Regions from separate parts of the Homo sapiens genome. Here all the other regions are linked to region 2. The links come from fine-mapping of genetic effects on gene expression. A gene starts in region 2. Each other region holds a variant in brackets. All regions are shown on one strand. Distances are between the middles of the regions. Region 1 has its middle 110 kb from the start of ATP6V0E2. Region 2 holds the start of ATP6V0E2 (ATPase H+ transporting V0 subunit e2). Region 3 has its middle 120 kb from the start of ATP6V0E2. Region 4 overlaps GHET1 (gastric carcinoma proliferation enhancing transcript 1).

Region 1 (5,010 bases), 110 kb after region 2:
GGGAGAGACCTACTTCAAAAAATGCACAGTGCCATCAATGATGGAGCTGACAATAATCACAAATAACAACAACTGAATGTGTCTGTCCTTTCAATCAAGCACAGCCCATGGTACTTGTCAAAGCCCTTCTTTCTGTACCCATTTGAAAGGATGCATTTTTAGGCTTGAGCTCGAAGTCCCCATTCAGAATGAACAGAACCTCCCTATGTCCCACAGACATAGCAGATACATTCAGGTCTTTCTCTTTGGTTTGTCCTGCCTCACATGCACCCTCCTCTCCATCCCCCATCCTTTCCTAACTATCCTTTATCCTAAAACTGCTCATTCTAAGCCTTCAGCCCACATTAACCTCTTGCTTTCTCTTGTATTTTCTCTTCTATCCAGACACTGATCCCCAGACCCTGGAAGGTTTTCTGACTTTGAATAAAATAACAACTTCTAGATCTTGTCCTGGGCCATGGTCTGTCTGCTCTGTGACCTCCAGATGATGGAGAACTCCCGACCCATTTCCTCTTGGTGGGATGAGGTTTGCAAACTTCCTAGGAAATCACTACACATCAGTTGGGGCTGGCTGTTCCTGTGGAAAACCCACTCAACATTGCCAAAGCCTCCATCCCCTTTCTCGCTCATCCCATAAAGAATGGAAGTTTGTGGTCTCCCTTCTGCTCTACTGTTTGTACCTTATGATAAGGGGTCTGATGTGTCTGTGTGTTTCTCTCTGATTTCTGTCCTTCTTGTCTATTTTAAAACTCTGGCTGTTATTGTGTATTCACCGCGAGGTAAGTACCAGATTCCAGGGGAAATCAAGATTCTTCCCTGACTACCCAAGCAGAGTGATGCTTCTTTTTGATTCAGTCATAGTGTTTTCTGTTTCGTGTAACACAACTCCTTAGTAAAGGGTAAGCACCATGTTTCCTACCTAGTACAAGACTGATCAGAGGGTAGGCACTAATAGCACAAACACAATTTTTAGTTGGATGGAATTGAACAAACTCATTGCATTGAATGTTTCTGCATTTAACATCATTTGGAGAACACCAGGATGCAAATCTGGCCCATTTTCTCGCACAAAACTCCCCACCCATTGGTAGCCTGAAAGCCACAGTTGACAAATGTTAGGAAGCACCAGCAAAAACCAGTTTCCACCCCTCTTACCTTGACTTGTGTGACTGCCCACACTTCTATCCAGAGCCAAATGAAAGCTTCCAGTCAATGAAAAAATCTAGCAACCAATATTTAGGTAAGGTACTAAGAGCTATTTTGCATTCTGTTGCTCCCCCACCCTGCACCCCAATTAGGGTTCCCTGCATGGGCCCCGCAGGTATCTGAGGCTACTGCCTTGAAGCCCCCGCCCCACCCACTAAAGACACTGAGTACTGGAGGGTCCCCTCTCCTTGTTCTACAATCATAACACGCCCACACAGGGGCCTGCTTCTTCAGGGGTTTAGTGCCCTCCACTGGGGGACAAAGGGTAATCAATGGACTATTATGCAACTCACAAAATTCTTACTGTCTTTCCCCTTCTCAGGGAGAATTATGTCCTACCAGAGGAAAAAAAAATGCACACATCATCAATAAAATCTTTGTGAGCAGCTTTTTAAAAAACTATTATTATTTTTAAAGATTAGAAAATTAACAGCGGCCAGGCGCTGTGGCTCACGCCTGTAATCCCAGCATTTTGGGAGGCTGAGGCGGGTGGATCACTTGAGGTCAGGAGTTCCAGACCAGCCTGGCCAACATGGTGAAACCCTATCTCTACTAAAAATACAAAAATTAGCTGGGCATGGTGGTGGGTGCCCCATAATCCCAGCTACTCAGGAGGCTGAGACAGGAAAATCACTTGAACCTGGGAGGCAGAGGTTGCAATGAACTGAGATTGTGCCACAGCAGTCCAGCCTGGGCGACAGAGCAAGACTGTCTCAAAAAAGAAAAAATAAAAAATAAAAAAAGAAAAGAAAAGTAACAGCATACTAGAGTATAATTTTCATATGCTCCTCATTAAAATTTTGAAAATTGTTAGTTTTCATATTTTCTCCATATCTATTTTAAAAATTATTTCAATTGCATACAGGTACCAAAACATCATGCCTCGAAATCATTCAGGATGCATCTTTTTAAAAAATCTCAGTGAGCAACGCTAAAGAAGAGAGACCACAAGTTCTAGACGTTTTCCTGTATAATTAAGAAGAATCTGTTCAACAAACCCCCATGACATAAGCTTATCTATATAACAAACCTGCACATGTGCCCCTGAACCTAAAATAAAAGCTTTTTTAAAAAAGAAAAAGAACATTTTCACACTTAAAAACTGAATACAATTTTCTAATCTCATGTAATAACTTCCCCAATTACTCTAAAATGACTGGTATAGCTGGTTTGTATAGGTAAGGATTTAGCCAAGGCCCAGGAATTGCCCTTGGTTGGTGGTAACGTATATTTCAACTTAGAACGTGTCTGCCCCAGTGGCTCCCCAGCCCACC[G/A]CACATTGCTGGCTTGCTGGAAGGAATGGGCGAGTTGTTGCCTCCACGTTTCCACCTTCTGGATTTGTCTGGCTGTTTCCTCCTGGTGTGCATTAGCTGGACGCTCTGCAGCCTGTATTAGTTACGCACTGAAAGTTAGACCTAAGAGCTTGATTAAGTTCAGCTCACACATTTCTGGCATTACCTCACAGGTGATGCTAAGCACCGCATGGGGCATGGAAGGATATCTGCTTGTCCCAGTGTTAGGGATGCAGGAATTGATAAGGCGGAGAGCATCGGTGTTCTCCAGGATAAAGTCACATTTCTCCCCTTGCAACCAGCAGATGATCCCTGGAGTGATACTTTAGCACCATGTAAATTCCCTGAGATGACTGTGTATCCATTCATGACATTTGCCTACATCAATTGGTTTACTAAAGATTTCTGCATTTTACAAGCAAGGAAAGAAGGCTCAGAGATGACCGTTGGGCCACTTAGCAAATTGGTGGCTGAGAGGCTGGCCTGCCAGAGGTGGGATACTTGCTCACCTCTTGCCCAGTCCCTAACCCACAGAAGTCTCATGATGAGAGAACCCTCAGCACCCTGAGAGAGTTAATGCATCATCCTTTGGCCCCATGAATCTGCCCAGAAGCCAGCTGAGAAAAGAAGGTAGAGAACAGGGCTGAGGGACAAGGTGCCCCTTTATATATTTGGGTGAACACATTTTTAAATTTTCCTTTCATTGTCCAGTCCCCATGAATTATTTATTTGTTATTAAATTCAACTGAATGAGATTTCAAAGCAACGAAAATTGAAGTTCAAATGAAACCAAATTACCACTCTGAGCTCCAGGTGGCCCTGACAGCCCAGTTTTGTGAAGGGCCCCTGAGGCTGTTCACTGAGTCTGAGATGTCACCAGGCATGGAGGGTCTCTGATCAGCATCCAGAGCTCCAGAGTAGGGAGCAACCCCTCACCACCACTTCTGGGCCCCAGGCAAGGCAGAGACCAAAAGAACCCTGGTAAGGTTCCCCAACCTCCATGTTCATTTAAAAAAAATGTTTAAAACTGACAAATAATAATTGCATATATTCATGGGGTCCATCATGATGTTTTGATATACATATACACATATGGAATGCTTATATCAAGATAGTTAACATATATATCACCTCACAGACTTATGTTTGTGGGTGTGTGGTACAAATATTTAAAATCTACTCTCTTAGCAATTTTTGAAACATACTTTACATTATTAAATATAGTCACCATGTTGTGCAATTGATCTCAAAAACTTATGCCTCCTGTCCAATGAAATTTTATATCCTTGTACCAACATCTCCCCAACCCACCCCCAACCATCCCTGAGCTAGTCTCTGCCTCTGTAATTTTGACTTTTTAAGATTCTACACAAGTGACATAATGTGGTATTTGTCTTTCTGTGCCTGGTTTATTTCATTTAACACAATGTCCTCCAGGTTCATTCATGTTGTCACAATTGACAGACTCTCCTGCTTTTTTAAGGCTGCATAGTATTCCATTGTGTGCATACACCACACGTTTCTTATCCATTCATCTGTGGATGAGCACAGGGAATGTTTCCATATCCTGGCCATCCAGAACAGTGCTGCAGTGAGCATGGGAGTGCAGATGTCTCTTTGACAAGCTGATTTCAGTTCCTTTGGTTCTAAACCCAGAAGTGGGATTGCTGGATCATCCAGTAATTCTATTTTGGATTTTTTTTAAGGAACCTCCACACTATTTTCCATATGGCTGTAAAACTCACATTCCCTCTAACACTGTGTGAGGGTTCCCTTCTCTCCACATCCTCGCCAACACTTGTTATGGTCCACATTCACTTTTCAAGGTGAAATCCATTCTCTGCACTCCCCTGCTTGAAAGCACTCGGCGTCAGTGCGTTGCTCCTTCCCTCACTTCCGGAGGCCCCTGATCTGAACCTTCATCCATCCCTCCCCACACGGGTCTCAATTTTTCCTCCAGCCTTTCAGCCTCTTTTCTCTCCAGGGACTTTGCACCTGCTCTCACCTGTGCCTGGGTTGTCAGTGAGCTCCATTGCACCCTTCATTCCCAGCCCAGCTGCTGCCTTCTCAGGAGAGACACCTTCCCAGACCTCCTTCACCCACGTGCACCCCCACCCATCAGCCCCTTTCCCATTTCCTACAAAGTCAGGAGCATTCACATATCACCTGTTGCTCCTCTACCCACTGCCTCTTACCTCCACAAGAACACAGCAGCAGCATGAGTGGCCACTGAATCTCCAGCACGCAGCCCAGTGCAGGGACAGAGCAGTGGGTCCTGTGTTTGCTCAGCCTTTTCACCAGAATGTCAATCACATCTGCTCTGCTCACCCCACCACACTCCATGTCTACCATCACATTCTATAAACACGCACCAAGGATATAACGCCTGGCCTAGCGGTTGGAGATGCAGAGACCAGACCTAGCCTTTCTGTTCCTCCTCTTAAGAAACTGAGCCCCTCATGGAGAAGTGAGGCAGACACATGAACATAAGTTTTGCAACAGAAGCACTTTT
Region 2 (4,930 bases):
GGAAGGTAGGTGGTTACATCATTAAATGTCACAGGCCTTATTTGCAAAGACAGAGACATCTGGAGCTGTTGTTCTCACCTCCGACACGTGCCCCGTCTGCAGAGAGCATTAGGATGCATCTGTGGCTCTGAGGTGTGATTTCCTAGGGCCTTCAAGTGTCCTGGGGCTCCTGTTCATTTGCACTGGGGGACACTCAGGGAAGTTTTAAAGAGCCTCTTTCAGTGGCTCCTTCTCCTTCTACCCTTTCTAGGAATTCATCAGCCCCATGAAAAGATGAACGATAGAGATGTCACCAACATCAGGACCCCACTCCCTGGGAGATGTCATGGAAACTTGTCAATCACACCCAAAGCACTCACTGAGGAGCCATGGCAGAGCAGTCGGTGGCGCCAATACCAACCAGAAGCCGCCAGGGCAGAGGGGAACCGTGAAGCCAGTGGAATGCACAGCTCCACCTCAGGGGACCGGGGTAGGCGGGGCTGTGTCTGGTAACATGCCCTTTGCCTCACATTAGTGCCTCTGAAAATAGTGTCCTCAGCCTGGGCACAAACCCTAGGGGTGAGCTGGGAGTGTGGAGGAGACGCTGGATTAGGGAGAAGTCTCGGCCATGTGTTCTGGCTCTTTTACTGATGAGCTGTGTGGGCCTAGGCAAGTTACTTCACTTCTCTGGGCCTCAGTTTTATCACCTGTAAAGTGATAGGATTGCCTTAGCCTCTAAGATCCCTTTCAGCTAAAAACAAAGTTCTAGAAAATAAATATGTGGTACTGTGGAACTCTGGGGAGCTGTTTGATCAGGTGAACAGTTTACCCATGGAAATGGGGCTCCAGCACAAAGCTGCTCACATCTTCCAGTCACGCTCCAGGGAACAGCCAGGGCTTGTGGGCCCAGATGAGGCTTTAGTGGTTGGAGAAGGAGCCAGTTCCTGGTTTTAATCCCTTCATGGACCTCAGACCATCACAAAGCTGCCAAACAAATGACACAGGCAATCACATGCAAATTAGGACAGAAATGAAACATCAAAGACATTAAAGGAAAAGAGTAAGAGCTGCAGGCTGCTAATATGAGTGGCTGCTCAGACTCAGCAATGTTTTTGGTTCTGGCCAAAGCCAAGACAAAGGAGCAGAGGCAAAGAAGGAAATACATTTCACTTTACAGCTGTCATTTTCTACAGAGGATTTTTTTTTTTCCAGAACAAAATTCAAAAAGTCCGTCTTTTTTGAGCTATAGAACTTTCGTGGTGATTTTTTTTTTTTTTTTTTTTTTGAGACGGAGTCTCACTCTGTCCCCCAGGCTGGAGTGCAGGGGCACAATCTCGGCTCACTGCAAGTGCAAGCTCTGCCTCCCGGGTTCACGCCATTCTCCTTTCAGCCTCCAAAGTAGCTAGGACTACAGGTGCCCGCCACCATGCCCAGCTAATTTTTTTATATTTTTAGTAGAGACGGGGTTTCACCGTGTTAGCCAGGATGGTCTCGATCTCCTGACCTCGTGATCCGCCCGCCTCTGCCTCCCATAGTGCTGGGATTACAGGTGTGAGCCACTGCGCTCAGCCCTCGTGGTGATTTTTTGAAGGCCTGTATGGACATACTCTTAACTCTATCTCCTGGATGCCAAGTGCACCCTTATCCTAGGCCAGTGTTCTCAACAATGTACACACTCTGGATGAGAAAAATAACCATTGTTTACAATCCAGCTAAAATCTCACCTCCTCCAGGGAGTCTTCCTGGATTTCTCCACCCTCTGAATTCTCATAATGGGCATTTGGCTACTTTGATCACAGGGCTCTTAGAACTGCGCTGTCCAGCATTATGATTTTACCAGAATATATCACTCCTCAACTACTTTAGAAACCCCTCGAAGGCTAGGATGGTATTTTATACCTAACAGTTTGGTGTCATCCCACGCCCACCTCCAACTTACATGAATGTTGGAAGGATGGATAGGGAGGTTTCAACTAGAGAACGGAGAAGGGCGGATGTAACTGGTTCTTGATTTCAGAAAACAGCCAGGAGCACACATGGCTGACGGGGTCAGTGCAAGGACAGGCACATTTCCCTTCTGCATCACGTGGGGACTGCGCCTCCCTATGTCATGAAGCCAGGGAATATGTGTGGCCGGCCGCTTGGGGTAGCACTTGTTGCTAGAGATACCGCCTGGAGGCCACTGATCTGTAAAAGGGATCTCTACAGAAGATAGGGATTTTTGATCGCCAGAGAAGAAGGGATATGTGAGATCCAAACGCCGAAGGAGGAAAGCAGGCTCCGTGGTCTCTTCCAGCCCTGATGGAAGAAACTACCGAGCCTTATTATACTAGGTGCTTTCCACATGCCTATTCATTTAATCCTCCAGCAACCTTGTAAGAAGGGCCATCCCATTTTATATTTAAACAAACCTTAACTACTGACGCAAGGAGTCAAGGATCTAATCCCAAAGCCTCTGCCTGGTTCGCTGCAGATGGATGTCCGCGAGGACGCCAGCCCTCCGCCTCCCGCCGGGTCCCTGAACGCCGGCCCGGCCGGTCCAACCTCATTCCGCTTCCCGCCATCGAAACGCGAAGCCCCCGCCTTCCCCCAAACGTCTCAGCGCCGCTGGGGCCTTTCTGGCTGCGCCGCCTCCGACCCCAGGCCCCGGTCCGCGCCCGCCGCTCGCTAGTCCTGGGAGTGAGGAGAACGCGTGCTGAGGACCCGGCCAGAGGGACAGCGGGGACCGCCCTCCCGCTGCGTCTCTGAAAGCGAGGCCGTTCCTCCCGCGTCCGACCCCCGCGGGGCCGTCAGGTTCGGGGCGGCCCAGGCTGCGGGTCCGCAGGGCGCTTCGGGCCGAGCCGGCGCGGCGCGTGAAGGGCAGGGGACGCCCCGAAAGACCGCTGGGGTGGGACCCCAAGCTCCAGGGGTCTTTGGAAATAAGAATGCGGCGTGACGTTGGCTGTGCGGGCGCGGGGCTGACGCGGACCCTATAACCCATCGCCGAAACCGGGCGGCCGCGCCCCTATTCCTCGGCATTTCTCTCTGTCCGCGGCCCTGCTCAGCCAATCAGCGAGTGGGCTCCTAGGCAGGTCCTGAGTGACAGCGCGGCGGGCTGGATCAGGAGATGCGCGTGCGCGGCCCGGCCCGGCTGATCGCTTCGGGTGCTCGACTCCTGTTGCGCATGCTCAGCGCGCTGCCCGGCTGGGGACCCGCGCACCTGCAGCGCCCGCTGCTCGGCCCTGCATCCTGCCTGGGCATCCTGCGCCCGGCCATGACGGCGCACTCATTCGCCCTCCCGGTCATCATCTTCACCACGTTCTGGGGCCTCGTCGGCATCGCCGGGCCCTGGTTCGTGCCGAAGGGACCCAACCGCGGGTAAGGAAAGCGCGCAGGCCCTGCAGACCTCTCCACCCCGGCCCCCTGGCCCGGCTCGCCCCTCCGCCCCGGGGCGGCGGCTTCCTGCTCTGCAGCGAGCGTCCGCAGGAGGGACGCCAGGACCCCGGACGCCACCTCTGAGGTCTCTCTGCACCTGGGTCTCTGACAGCCGGGAACAGGCAGGAGGTGGGGCGAGAGGGCATATCCAGAAGGTAAAGAGGAGAGTGACATTGGAGATGTCTGTCACCCCTCCTGCAGCCAGTAAAGGGCACAAGTGGGCACTGACGCAGTTTCTCCACTCCTTGCTAGCTGTGTGACCTAGAGCCAATATCAAGTCTCAGTTTCTTCATGGGTAAAATGGAGATAATGTCGACTCCTGCCTTAAAAGGCTGCTGTGAGGATGACCTGCGGTAACGCATTTAAAACACCTACCAGTGCGTGACACTTTGTAGGTATGGGATAAGTTTAGCTGGCGTTATTTTTCGAAGGTCCTCTAGCAGATTGCTGCGCCATTCACCAGTTTCTGCTTCATATTATCTTCAGTTACAAAGCACCCTTCCCTTGACTGCATGTTCCCAGGGGCTGGAGTTTGTCCAGTTCACCATTGTCTACTCAGTGCCCAGCCAGGACTGGCACAACCTGCTTAGTAATGTTGAAAAAGGGATCGCGTGCTCCTGTGTCCAGCACCAGCTTGCAGTGCTTTAGATCAAAGATCAAGGGCCTCGTTTGGATTAGAGTTAGCTTTGCCCAAAGGCCGTTTGGACATGTGAGTGCTGCCTTTGTTCTTAAAGACAGGCAGGGTTTGGGATCCCACAGCTTCACTTTGTAAACCATTTTCGTGTCTTGCGTCTCCTGCTATTCTTGGTGAGTTCTTGCTTCAGTTTGACTGAAATTTCTTTTGCTGCACTTGAAGCATCTGTCTCTGGTCTTCTCTGAGTACACGCAAAGTGGCTAGTCCCTGTTCTCTTTGTAACAACTCACTGGGCCTCAGAACTGGCTCACAGTCTGCCTGCTTCTTGCCCTGTCTTCTAGCCTATTGTTTTCCTTCCCCTTGCTCCATGAATTTTGAATTCTACAGACCACTCCCTGTTGGGTTGCCACAAATGCAGCTCTGTGCAGTGCCTTTCCACAACACGTCTGCATTAAGATGGAGCAATATTGGGTGGTAGAGAAGGGAAATGAAGGGAAGGATTCTTAAGGCAACTTGGATGTGGTCAAGGTTGGCCTCTCTGTGAGGTGACACTTTCAGTTTTTATTTTCTGCCTTGCTATTCTTACCCTGAGTAGAACTCAGCCTCCTGTGTCCAGGAGGCATCAGGAAGGCCAATGGAAAAGAGCTCACACCAGGAGCTCTTCTTGCTCTGGTCCTGGCCAGGCCTTGTGAGGTGCTGGCTGCATTTGTTCTGACCCGTGTCCTCTTCTGCTGCAGAGTGATCATCACCATGCTGGTCGCCACCGCCGTCTGCTGTTACCTCTTGTAAGTACTACTCTCCCCAGCTCAAAGTCAGCCAGTTCCTTTGTCCTCCCTCCTTTCCTCCTCACCCTAGCCTGCTCTTCCTTCTGTCCTGGTAGTAAATGCCTCTTGAAAGGCTGAA
Region 3 (5,010 bases), 120 kb after region 2:
GCTACAATTCAGATGAGATTTGGGTGGGCACACAGCTAAACCATATCACCTGACTACTGACCTTTTTTAAAACTGTGAGTTCAAAGGACCTCAAACTGGGCTGTGGTGGGTGCCTGCTGGTGGGTGATGAGGAAAGGCTGGTCGTTATTTGCAGCCAAGGCTCTGGTCACACAGAATCAGACACAGGCTCAGCAGTGAGCAGCCTTGGCAGGCCTGGAATCCCAGGCTAGTTGTGCCTGTGATTGGTTTTGTTATCAGCACACTTTTCATTTTGGATTCTTTTGGCCATCCCTCTCCTCATTAATGATGTCATCAAAGAAGGAACAGAGCATCACCTCAGGCCCGGTCTCTCCCACTTGCCTTCTTTGACACAAATACTTCTGACATCTTAGATTACGTGTCAGAGGGAACAAGGGTGGAGTCAAATTCGATCTTATGTTTTTTTGGTTTTGTTTTTTAGACAGAGTCTCACTCTATCACCCAGGCTGGAGTGCAGTGGTGCAATCATGGCTCAGTGCAGCCTTGACCTCCTGAGCTTAAGCGTTCTCCCACCTCAGCCTCTGGAGTAGCTGGGACCGCAGGCGTGTGCCACCAGTCCCAGCCTCAAACCTAATCTTACATTGAATGTTTGTTATGTAAGCACACACACAGAGGTGTGCCACCACTCCCAGCCTCAAACCTAATCTTACACTGAGTGTTTGTTATGTAAGCACACACACAGAGGTGTGCTACCACTCCCAGCCTCAAACCTAATCTTACATTGAGTGTTTGTTATGTAAGCACACACACAGAGGTGTGCCACCACTCCCAGCCTCAAACCTAATCTTACATTGGCTGTTTGTTATGCAAAGGTTAAGAGCTGCAATGTGTACAGGCAGATGCCTGCACAGCACAGGTCCAGAGCCGAAGGGTCCCTGAGAAAATACCACGTGTCCCATGTCCATGCCACCAAATAAATACACGGTAGCAGACTGTTTTGATATGTCATGGGATCTTTGAAATATGAATGCCATGCCTTGTTAATCATGAAAACACCTTCTCTCATCTTACTAAAGCACGTTCCACCATGGGCACTGGCCCGACTTTGACAGAGTGTTGAAGGAAGAGCCCATTAGTCCTCCCCAGCCATATATCATACATGTCCAATTTTCTAGCCACTGACAAATGATCTTCATAAAATATGACTAAGTTGTCCAGGAAGCAAAATTTCTCCAGGTCTAGCCAAGAACAATATGAGAAATGCACAACCCCTTCCCGTCCGGGGCAGCTGCATTTCCAAGTGATTATCCATCAGCTACAGGTGACGCATCTCCACGTGGAGGAGACTGCGATTCCAGAAAGGCAAGGCCACATGGGTTCCGTGAGGCCCCGTAGAAGTGAACGTGGCAAAGAAGGGACAAAGAAGGGTGGGCAACCGTATTGGTCAGGAATCTCCAGAGGGACAGATCTGTGGGATGTATGTGTATATGAAACGGAGCTTATTAGGGAGAATTGTCTCACATGCTCACGAGGTGAAGTCCCACCATAGGCCATCTGCAAGCTCGGGAAGAGAGAAGCCGGTAGTGGCTCAGTCCAAGTCCAAAAGCCTCAAAACCAGGGAAGCTGACAATGCAGCCTTCAGACTGTGGCCAAAGGCTGGAGAGCCCCCGGCAAACCACTAGCATAAGTGCCAGAGTCCAAAGGCGGAGGAACCGGGAGTCTGATGTCCAAGGGCAGGAGAAGCTGAAAGAAGCATCCAGCACAGGATAAAGCAAGAAGCCAGAAGAACCAGCGAGTAAGCTTATCTTACCTTCTTCTGCCTGCTTTGTTCTGCCTGCACTGGCAGCCGATGGGATGGTGCCCACCCACACTGAGGATGGGTCTTCCTCTCCCAGTCCACTGACTCAAACGTCAGTCTCCTCTGGCAGCACCTTCACCGACACACCCAGAAATCACACATTACCAGCTATCTAGGCATCCTTCAATCCAATCAAGTTGACAACTAACATTCACCATCACGGCAACAGAAGAAAAATTGGAGAGCGGGGAGCTGGCCAGTGGTGCCCTGCGAGGCCAAGCAGGGGTGCACTTGTATAATTTGCACACTTATAATTTGACATTTATAATTTCCCTCCTATACTCAATGAGGCCCT[C/T]GCTTAGAGGACCACCAACATCTAAATTCACTGCAGGATTTTCTCCCACAAGGAAAACCCAGATGTTTTAGGAGAACCTAATGCCATCAGTATGGCTGATGGAATGGAGTCGCTTCCTGCAATGAGCAGATGGTTTTAGGAACAGGACAGAAGGAAGAGGCTTGCTGAGTTGACTGCACTTCTGTCGGAATCAGCTTTCTCAGGAGATGCTCCCCTTGAGCTAAGCAGGGCAACCTTCCCCTTTGCAATCCCCACCCACAGACCCCATTGGAGCAATAAGTATTGTGATCAGGGTACTCATTGGGGACAGTAATTAAATGTCTGTTTGGAGAACACAGGCTCCACAAGGCTAACCAGGCCAACCCTCTGACCCCACGGGGCTGGCCTCTGTGATTCAGAATGGGGATATTACCCCAGGCCCTCAGAGGACACCCTGTTCACTGCTCTCAAAATCCGATCGCATGTTGAGTGGAACATGACACTGATTAGTATTCCATAAAATCCTGTGGATGGCTTAAAGTGGCCTGATTTTAGAGAACTATACTGTGCATGATGCACATTAAGAGAGGAACAGCAATGATTAAAGCATCAGGAAAAAGGAGCTGGAAGCAAAGCTAAGGGAGCTAGGGTTGTCTGACATGAAATAGAGAAACAGGAGGTTTTATAGTTGTCCATTCAGTTATCCTCTTGTGATTTTTTTGATCAATATGAAAGTGCACAGATATGAGACTTATCCTAAGGATGATACTAAAAAGTATGAAATGTTTTTCACACTCAAGCCGAGGAGACAACTTGAGAACAAGGAAAAACGCACATGGAAGAATGAAGTGGCCATCGAAGGGGCAAGTCTGTGGCTGAATGAGGGGTCCCCACAGAAACTAAAGAGGGGCTTGGCCGGGCACGGTGGCTCATGCCTGTAATCCCAGCACTTTGGGAGGCTGAGGCGGGCGGATCACCTGAGGTCAGGAGTTTGAGACCAGCATAGCCAACATGGTGAAACCCCATCTCTACAAAAATACAAAAATTAGCTGGGAGTATTGGTGTGTGCCTGTAATCCCAGCTACTCAGGAGGCTGAGGCGGGAGAATCGCTTGAACCCGGGAGGCAGAGGTTGCAGTGAGCCGAGACTGTGCCATTCATTGCACTCCAGCCTGGGCAACAAGAGTGGAACTCCATCTCAAAAGAAAAAAAAATGGAAGCTAAGGAGGGGCTTTATGGAGACAGTACAATGTGTAAAGGCCCATCACCCATAGAGCCTCAAAGTCCTGACAATCTGTGAGTGTGAGAATAGCTTCATCTTTGAGGTCCAAGTGCCTAGAAAATCTTGGAGGAGGCAGGAAATAGAAATCCAATGTTTACTGAATGAATGAGTGACGAAGGAAGAAGTGAGTAAGACAGTAGGAGCAAGAAGTGTTAACATTCTTTTTTTTTTTTTTTTTTTTGAGATGGAGTATGGAGTTTCGCTCTTGTTGCCCAGGCTGGAGTGCAATGGAGTGATCTCGGCTCACTGAAACCTCTGCCTCCCAGGTTCAAGTGATTCTCTCACCTCAGCCTCCCGAGTAGCTGGGATTACATGCACCCGCCACAGTGCCCAGCTAATTTTTGTATTTTTGGTAGAGATGGGGTTTCACCATGTTGACCAGGCTTGTCTACAACTCCTGACCTCAGGTGATCCGCCCGCCTCAGCCTCCCAGAGGGCTGGGATTACAGGCATGAGCCACTGCGCCCAGCCCAACACTCTTTATATAAAGCTCCATGCAATGTCCTAGTTACAGAATGTAAAGGATTTTTTTGCCTGCATATTTCTTGCCTGTGACAATATTAAACATTGCTGATCACCCCTTTTCTGATAAGATTTCCTCACTTTGCTCCTCCACTTTCCCTTCTAAATGTCCTGCTTTGTTTACTCTTCTCTTTCCATTGTGTGGAATTGTACTGATGTGTGCTGAAAGAAAGAAGGAAAGAAAGAAGAAAGGGAGAGGAGGACAGGGGAAGGGATGGAAGGAGAAAGAGAAAGAGTGAAATCACAGATATTTACTGAGCTCCAGGCTCTAGCTGGATACTCGCACAGTAAATAAGGCAGGTCTGTTCTCTTCGAGGTCTTTCCAGACTGCAGAGAAAGCTGCACAGACAATTTTAATACTGCGTTGTTTGTTGTGGTAGAATTAAGCACAGGATGAGGCTGGAGTGCACAGGATGAACAACTGATCTGAACTGGAAATTACAGAGGAAGCTTTCCAGAACACCACATGGCATTCAGGTTGGTGAGTGTCCAACTGGTCAGTTAGATACAAAGACCTGGAGACAAGAGGCGGACCTCTGGAGGGGTGGAAAGGCCGAAGAGGTAAACACAGGACCAACCACAGCTCCGTGAGGGGCACCGTTGGCAGGACCAGCAGCACGCTGCACGGTCACGGGGAGGTGAGCCTCGTTTGGGGTCTTGACGAGGAAGGGAAGGCTTCACAGCAGAGGTGGTTCGAGGCCTGTCTTAAAGGCCCAGCAGGCTTTTTGTTGATCAGCAAGTGCAGACAGAAGGGAAAGTCCATTTTAGAGAAAGCAGATCATCACCAGCAGGTCACACCTGTGCGGTATGTGCAGTCTGTGTGGGAAATCTCCTGGATGGATGCGTGGGTTAACTGCTGGCGTGGGGAGGGAGGAGGCTGGAAAGGCATGTTGGGACCAGACAGAGAAAGATCACAAACCATTCTAGGGGACGTGGGGAGCATCTGCCAGCAGTGCGGAAGCCCTCGGAAGGCCAGAGCAGATGGTCTTGCCCCGAGTGTGGCTCCATGGAAAGGGACGGAGTAAAGGAGGGGAGGGAGGAGAGGAAGGGGTAGGCTTGAGAGGGTCCAGGCAACAATAGGTCTGGGAGACGGCGG
Region 4 (5,010 bases), 880 kb before region 2:
TGCCCCAAGCCAATGGAAAAGCAGAATCATTGACTATGTTTGACTCCTTCTGGTACCTAGCACAGTATCTGGGACACAGCAGGTGCTATGTAAATGTGTTGAGTGAATGAATGAATGAATGCCATTGAGGAGAATGAATAACCCCAGAAAACTAGACATGGGTAGATGTTGTCCTAATTTCAAAAGAGGGGAAAATGAGAGTGAGAGTTTCATAAATGACAATCTCTAAACGATGTTGCTCTCTAGCAAAATTCTAGAATGGATTATTTTAAGAACAAAGCAGGTAAACATTGGCAGCCAACTTGAAATTAATAAGAAAAAGGTGTGCGCCAGAATAGTTTTATTTCCTTTTGTTTTTCATTGTACAGCTTGATTTGACTAAGTTGTTTATACCTTTCACTCTGCCTTTGCATGCACTGGGGGTGATCTAGTCTACTATGTGGACTGGAAGTCCACCCAGTGGCCAGGCTCAGAGGCAGGGAAGGGGGGTTGGTGCCATTCTGGGAGAGGAGGTTTCTGGGGCTGTTTCTCAGCCAGATCCTGTCTCATCTGTTTCCAACAACCCCACAAATGAAGACACTGAAGCTGACTAATCAAATTGACTGATGCCCCAATAGGTGTCATGATATGCAGTGAGAATCCGGCAGGCATTAGAGATGAACAGCACGGGCTGCAGCCACATTATCTCAGCTTGAGTCCTAGTTTTCACCAGCTACTAGCTAGCTATCTCTGGTCAAGTCACTTACCTTGCTTGAGCCTCAGTTTCTCCATCTAGAAAATGGTCATAATCGAAGTATCTATCTTATAGGGTGTTGGGAAGATTAACTGAGAAGCCACATAGAGTTTACTGGCACATTAAAAAAAGAAACTATAAGAATGTTAGCTGTCCTTTTGCACGGCAAAAGGAACAGTAAGCAGAGTAAACAGACAACCCACAGAGTGGGAGAAAATCTTCCCAATCTATACATCCGACAAAGGACTAACATCCAGAATCTACGAGGAACTCAAATTAGCAAGAAAAAAACAATCCCATCAAAAACTGGCCTAAGGACATGAATAGACAATTCTCAAAAGAAGATATACAAATGGCCAACAAACATATGAAAAAGTGCTCAATATCACTAATGATCAGGGAAATGCAAATCAAAACCACAATGCAATACCACATTACTCCTGCAAGAATGGCCATAATAAAAAAAAAATCAAAAAAATAATAGATGTTGGTGTTGATATGGTGAAAAGCGAACACTTCTACACTGCTGGTGGGAATGTAAAGTAGTACAACCACTATGGAAAACAGTGTGGAGATTCCTTAAAGAACTAAAAGTAGATCTACCATTTGATCCAGCAATCCCACTACTGGATATCTACCCAGAGGGGAAAAAAAAAGTCATTATATGAAAAAGATGCTTGCACATGCATGTTTGTAGCAGCACAATTCGCAATTGCAAAAATATGGAACCAGCCCAAATGCCCATCAACCAACAAATGGATAGAGAAACTGTGGCATAGGGCTGGGCGCCGTGGCTCACGCCTGTAATCCCAGCACTTTGGGAGGCTGAGGCAGGCGGATCACGAGGTCAAGAGTTTGAGACCATCCTGGCCAACATGGTCAAAGCCTGTCTCTACTAAAAATACAAAAATTAGCCGAGTGTGGTGGCGTGCACCTGTAGTCTCAGCTACTTAAGAGGCTGAGGCAGGAGAATCGCTTGAACCTGGGAGGCGAAGGTTGCAGTGAGCCAAGATCACACCACTGTACTCCAGCCTGGCAACAGAGCAAGACTCTGTCTCAAAAAAAAAAAAAAAAAAAAAAAAAAAAAAAAAAAAAAAAGAAAGAAAAAAAAGAAAAAAGAAACTGTGGCATATATATACAATGGAATACTACTCAGCCATAAAAAGGAGTGAATTAATGGCATTTGCCGCAACCTGGATGAGATTGGAGACTATTATTCTAAGTGAAGTAACTCAGGAATGGAAAACCAAACATTGTATGTTCTCACTTATAGTGGGAAATAAGCTCTGAGGATGCCAAGGCATAAAAATGATACAATGGACTTTGGGACTTTGTGGGGGAAAGGGTAGGAAGGGGATGAGGATTAAAAGGCTAAAAATTGATTTCAGTGTATATTGCTCTGGTGATGGGTGCACACCGAAATCTCACAAATCACCACTAAAGAACATACTCATGGCCGGGCGCAGTAGCTCACGCCTGTAGTCTCAGCACTTTGGGAGGCCGAGGCAGGCGGATCACGAGGTCAGGAGATCGAGACCATCCTGGCTAACATGGCAAAACCCCGTCTCTACTAAAAATACAAAAAAAAAATTAGCCGGGCATGGCGGTGGGTGCCTGTAGTCCCAGCTTCCTCTCATGCTATGTAGATGTCACACCTGGTCCAACCCATCTTTGGGTCCCTGGTAAATCAGACACCGCCTCCTCAAGCCTGCCTATAAAATCCGGTGCACTCCACTGAGGTCTGGAGGTCCCATTTGGGTGCACCTCTCTCTCGAAAGAGACAAAGCTGTTCTCTGGGCCGGGTGGGGTGGCTCACACCTGTATTCCCAGTGCTTTGGGAGGCCGAGGTGTGCAGATCACATGAGGTCGGGAGTTTGAGACCAGCCGGACAAACATGGAGAAACCCCGCCTCTACTAAAAATACAAAATTAGCCGGGCATAGTGGCA[CA/C]TGCCTGTAGTCCCAGCTACTCGGGAGGCTGAGGCAGAAGAATGATGTGAACCTGGGAGGCGGAGCTTGCAGTGAGCCAACATCGCACCACTGCGCTCCAGCCTGGGCGACAGAGCAAGACTCTGTCTCAAAAAAAAAAAAAAAAAAAAAAAAAAAAAAAAGAACTTACTCATGTAACCAAATACCACCTGTTCCCCCAAAATCTATGGAAATAGAAGCTTTTAAAAAATTAAAGGCTGGGTACGGTGGCTCACGCCTGTAATCCCTGCACTTTGGGAGGCCAAGGCGGGCAGATCACCTAGGGCAGGAGTTCAAGACCAGCCTGGCCAACATGGCAAAACTGTCTCTACTAAAAATACTAAAAGTAGCTGTGTGTGATGGTGCATGCCTGTAATCCCAGCTACTCGGGAGGCTGAGGTAGGAGAATTGCTTGAACCCGGGAGGCAGAGGATGCAGTGAGCCAACATCACGCCACTGCACTCCAGCCTGAGAGACAGAGAGAGCCTCCATTTCAAAAAAAAATTTTTTAAAAAAGAATGTTAGCTCTCAGGGTTCAGAATCATTTTTCCTGGCTGACTGGACACAAGCTAACAAGAAACAGACATAAACTAACAAGGTAACAGACATAAATTATCAGAGCTGAAGTTTCCCTTTTCAGTTAAAAAACAACAAATCTGACCAAGTACCAGATAAGAGAATCCCACACAGTAAAAATGCAAATACTTGTGTAGTTTCACAGAAGGCTGTCATTGTCCCTGAAGTCTGTTCTCACTGGGTGGAACCCAGGGCCCAGGGGTCAGTTTGGGGTCCCATATTTTAAAAAAGACGTCAACAAAGAAGAACTGCCCAGGGCAAGGTGAGCAAGATGGTGACACACACTTCCTCCAGGTGAGTGATTCTTGACTTTGCAAAAATGCTTTCAACTAACAGTTTGGTGGTTCCTCAAAAAGTTAAATACAGAACTACCATATGACCCCAAATTTCCACTCCTAAGTATATACCCCAAGGGGCAGAAAACATGTCCACACACAAGTCTGAGCACAAATGTTCACAGCAGCACTATTCACAATAGCCAAAATGTGGAAACAACCCAAGTGTCCGCTGAAGCAAGAATGGATAAACGACGGGGGTACGCGTGTATAATGGAATGCTATCCATCCATTAAAAGGAAGGACGAGGCCGGGTGCGGTGGCTCACGCCTGTAATCCCAGCACTTTGGGAGGCCAAGGCAGGTGAATCACGAGGTCAGGAGATTGAGACCATCCTGGCTAAGACAGTGAAACCCTGTCTCTACTAAAAATACAAAAAATTAGCCAGGTGTGGTGGCGGGCACCGGTAGTCCCAGCTACTCGGGAGGCTGAGGCAGGAGAATGGCGTGAACCCAGGAGGCAGAGCTTGCAGTGAGCCGAGATCGCGCCACTGCACTCCAGCACTCCAGCCTGGGTAACAGAGCAAAACTCTGTCTCAAAAGAAAAAAAAAAAAAAAGGGAAGGATGTTCTGACACATCCTACATGGGTGAGCCTTGAAAACATTATTCTAAGTGAAAGAAGCCAGACATAAAAGGTCGCATATTGTAGGATTCCATTTATATGAAATGTTCAGAATAGGCAAATCCATAGAGACAGAATGAAGATTGGTGACTGCCAGGCGCTGGAGGGCATGACTGTTTAATGGCTACAGGATTTCCTTTGGGGCTATTAATGTTTTGGAACTAGTTTTGTACAACAGCGAGAATGTACTAAACGCCCCTGAACTGTACCCTTAAAAATGGTTAATTTTATGTTATGTGAATTCCACCCCAGTTTTTTGTTTTTGTTTCTTTGTTTTTGAGACGGAGTCTCGCCCTGTCGCCCAGGCTGGAGTGCAGTGGCGCGATCTCAGCTCACTGCAACCTCTGCCTCCTGGGTTCAAGTGATTCTCCTGCCTCAGCCTCCCGAGTAGCTGGGACTACAGGCATATGCCACTATGCCCAGCTAATTTTTTGTATTTTTAGTAGAGATGGGGTTTCACCATGTTGGTTAGGCTGGTCTCGAACTCCTGACCTCAAATGATCCATTTGCCTCAGCCTCCCAAAGTGCTGGGATTACAGGCATGAGCCACCATGCCTGGCCCCCACCCCAGTTCTTTAAAATGCTTTCAACTAATAGTATCCCATTTGATCTGGTCCTCTTGACGGTCTTGTGAAGTGAGTAGGACTGGTGATATTTTTTCTTGTTTTCCGTTTGAGAAAAATGAGGCTGGGAGGTTTGCCCAGTTAGTAAGCTAAGTGATGGCAGATGGGGTCTCAAGGAGTCTCTGATTCCAGGACCAGTGTGGTCTCCGCCATTC

The links. PIP is the estimated chance that this variant, and not a neighbour inherited with it, causes the effect.
Region 1: its variant is fine-mapped to the expression of ATP6V0E2 in nasal epithelium (TOPMed, PIP above 0.99).
Region 3: its variant is fine-mapped to the expression of ATP6V0E2 in prostate (GTEx, PIP 0.94).
Region 4: its variant is fine-mapped to the expression of ATP6V0E2 in left ventricle (GTEx, PIP 0.96).

What each region holds. Positions count from the first base shown.
Region 1 is chr7:149,985,644-149,990,653 of GRCh38, forward strand. It overlaps a transcript of ACTR3C not described here. Among named protein-coding and RNA genes, the nearest start is that of ATP6V0E2, 110 kb to the left of the region's middle. The variant G/A (reference allele first, on the strand shown) is at 2,481.
Region 2 is chr7:149,870,834-149,875,763 of GRCh38, forward strand. It overlaps ATP6V0E2 (ATPase H+ transporting V0 subunit e2), which reads left to right and starts at 3,136. Exons shown (of 4, transcript NM_145230.4): 1 at 3,136-3,336; 2 at 4,765-4,812. The coding sequence starts at 3,233. It overlaps ATP6V0E2-AS1 (ATP6V0E2 antisense RNA 1), which reads right to left and starts at 3,029. Exons shown (of 4, transcript NR_027040.1): 1 at 2,391-3,029; 2 at 809-963. RefSeq lists silencers at 2,663-2,872, 2,903-2,982, 3,393-3,572 and enhancers at 2,935-3,903, 3,233-3,372.
Region 3 is chr7:149,991,292-149,996,301 of GRCh38, forward strand. It overlaps a transcript of ACTR3C not described here. Among named protein-coding and RNA genes, the nearest start is that of ATP6V0E2, 120 kb to the left of the region's middle. The variant C/T (reference allele first, on the strand shown) is at 2,133.
Region 4 is chr7:148,988,219-148,993,228 of GRCh38, forward strand. GHET1 (gastric carcinoma proliferation enhancing transcript 1) reads left to right here. Exons shown (of 1, transcript NR_130107.1): 1 at 1-1,211. Among named protein-coding and RNA genes, the nearest start is that of GHET1, 3.2 kb to the left of the region's middle. The variant CA/C (reference allele first, on the strand shown) is at 2,681.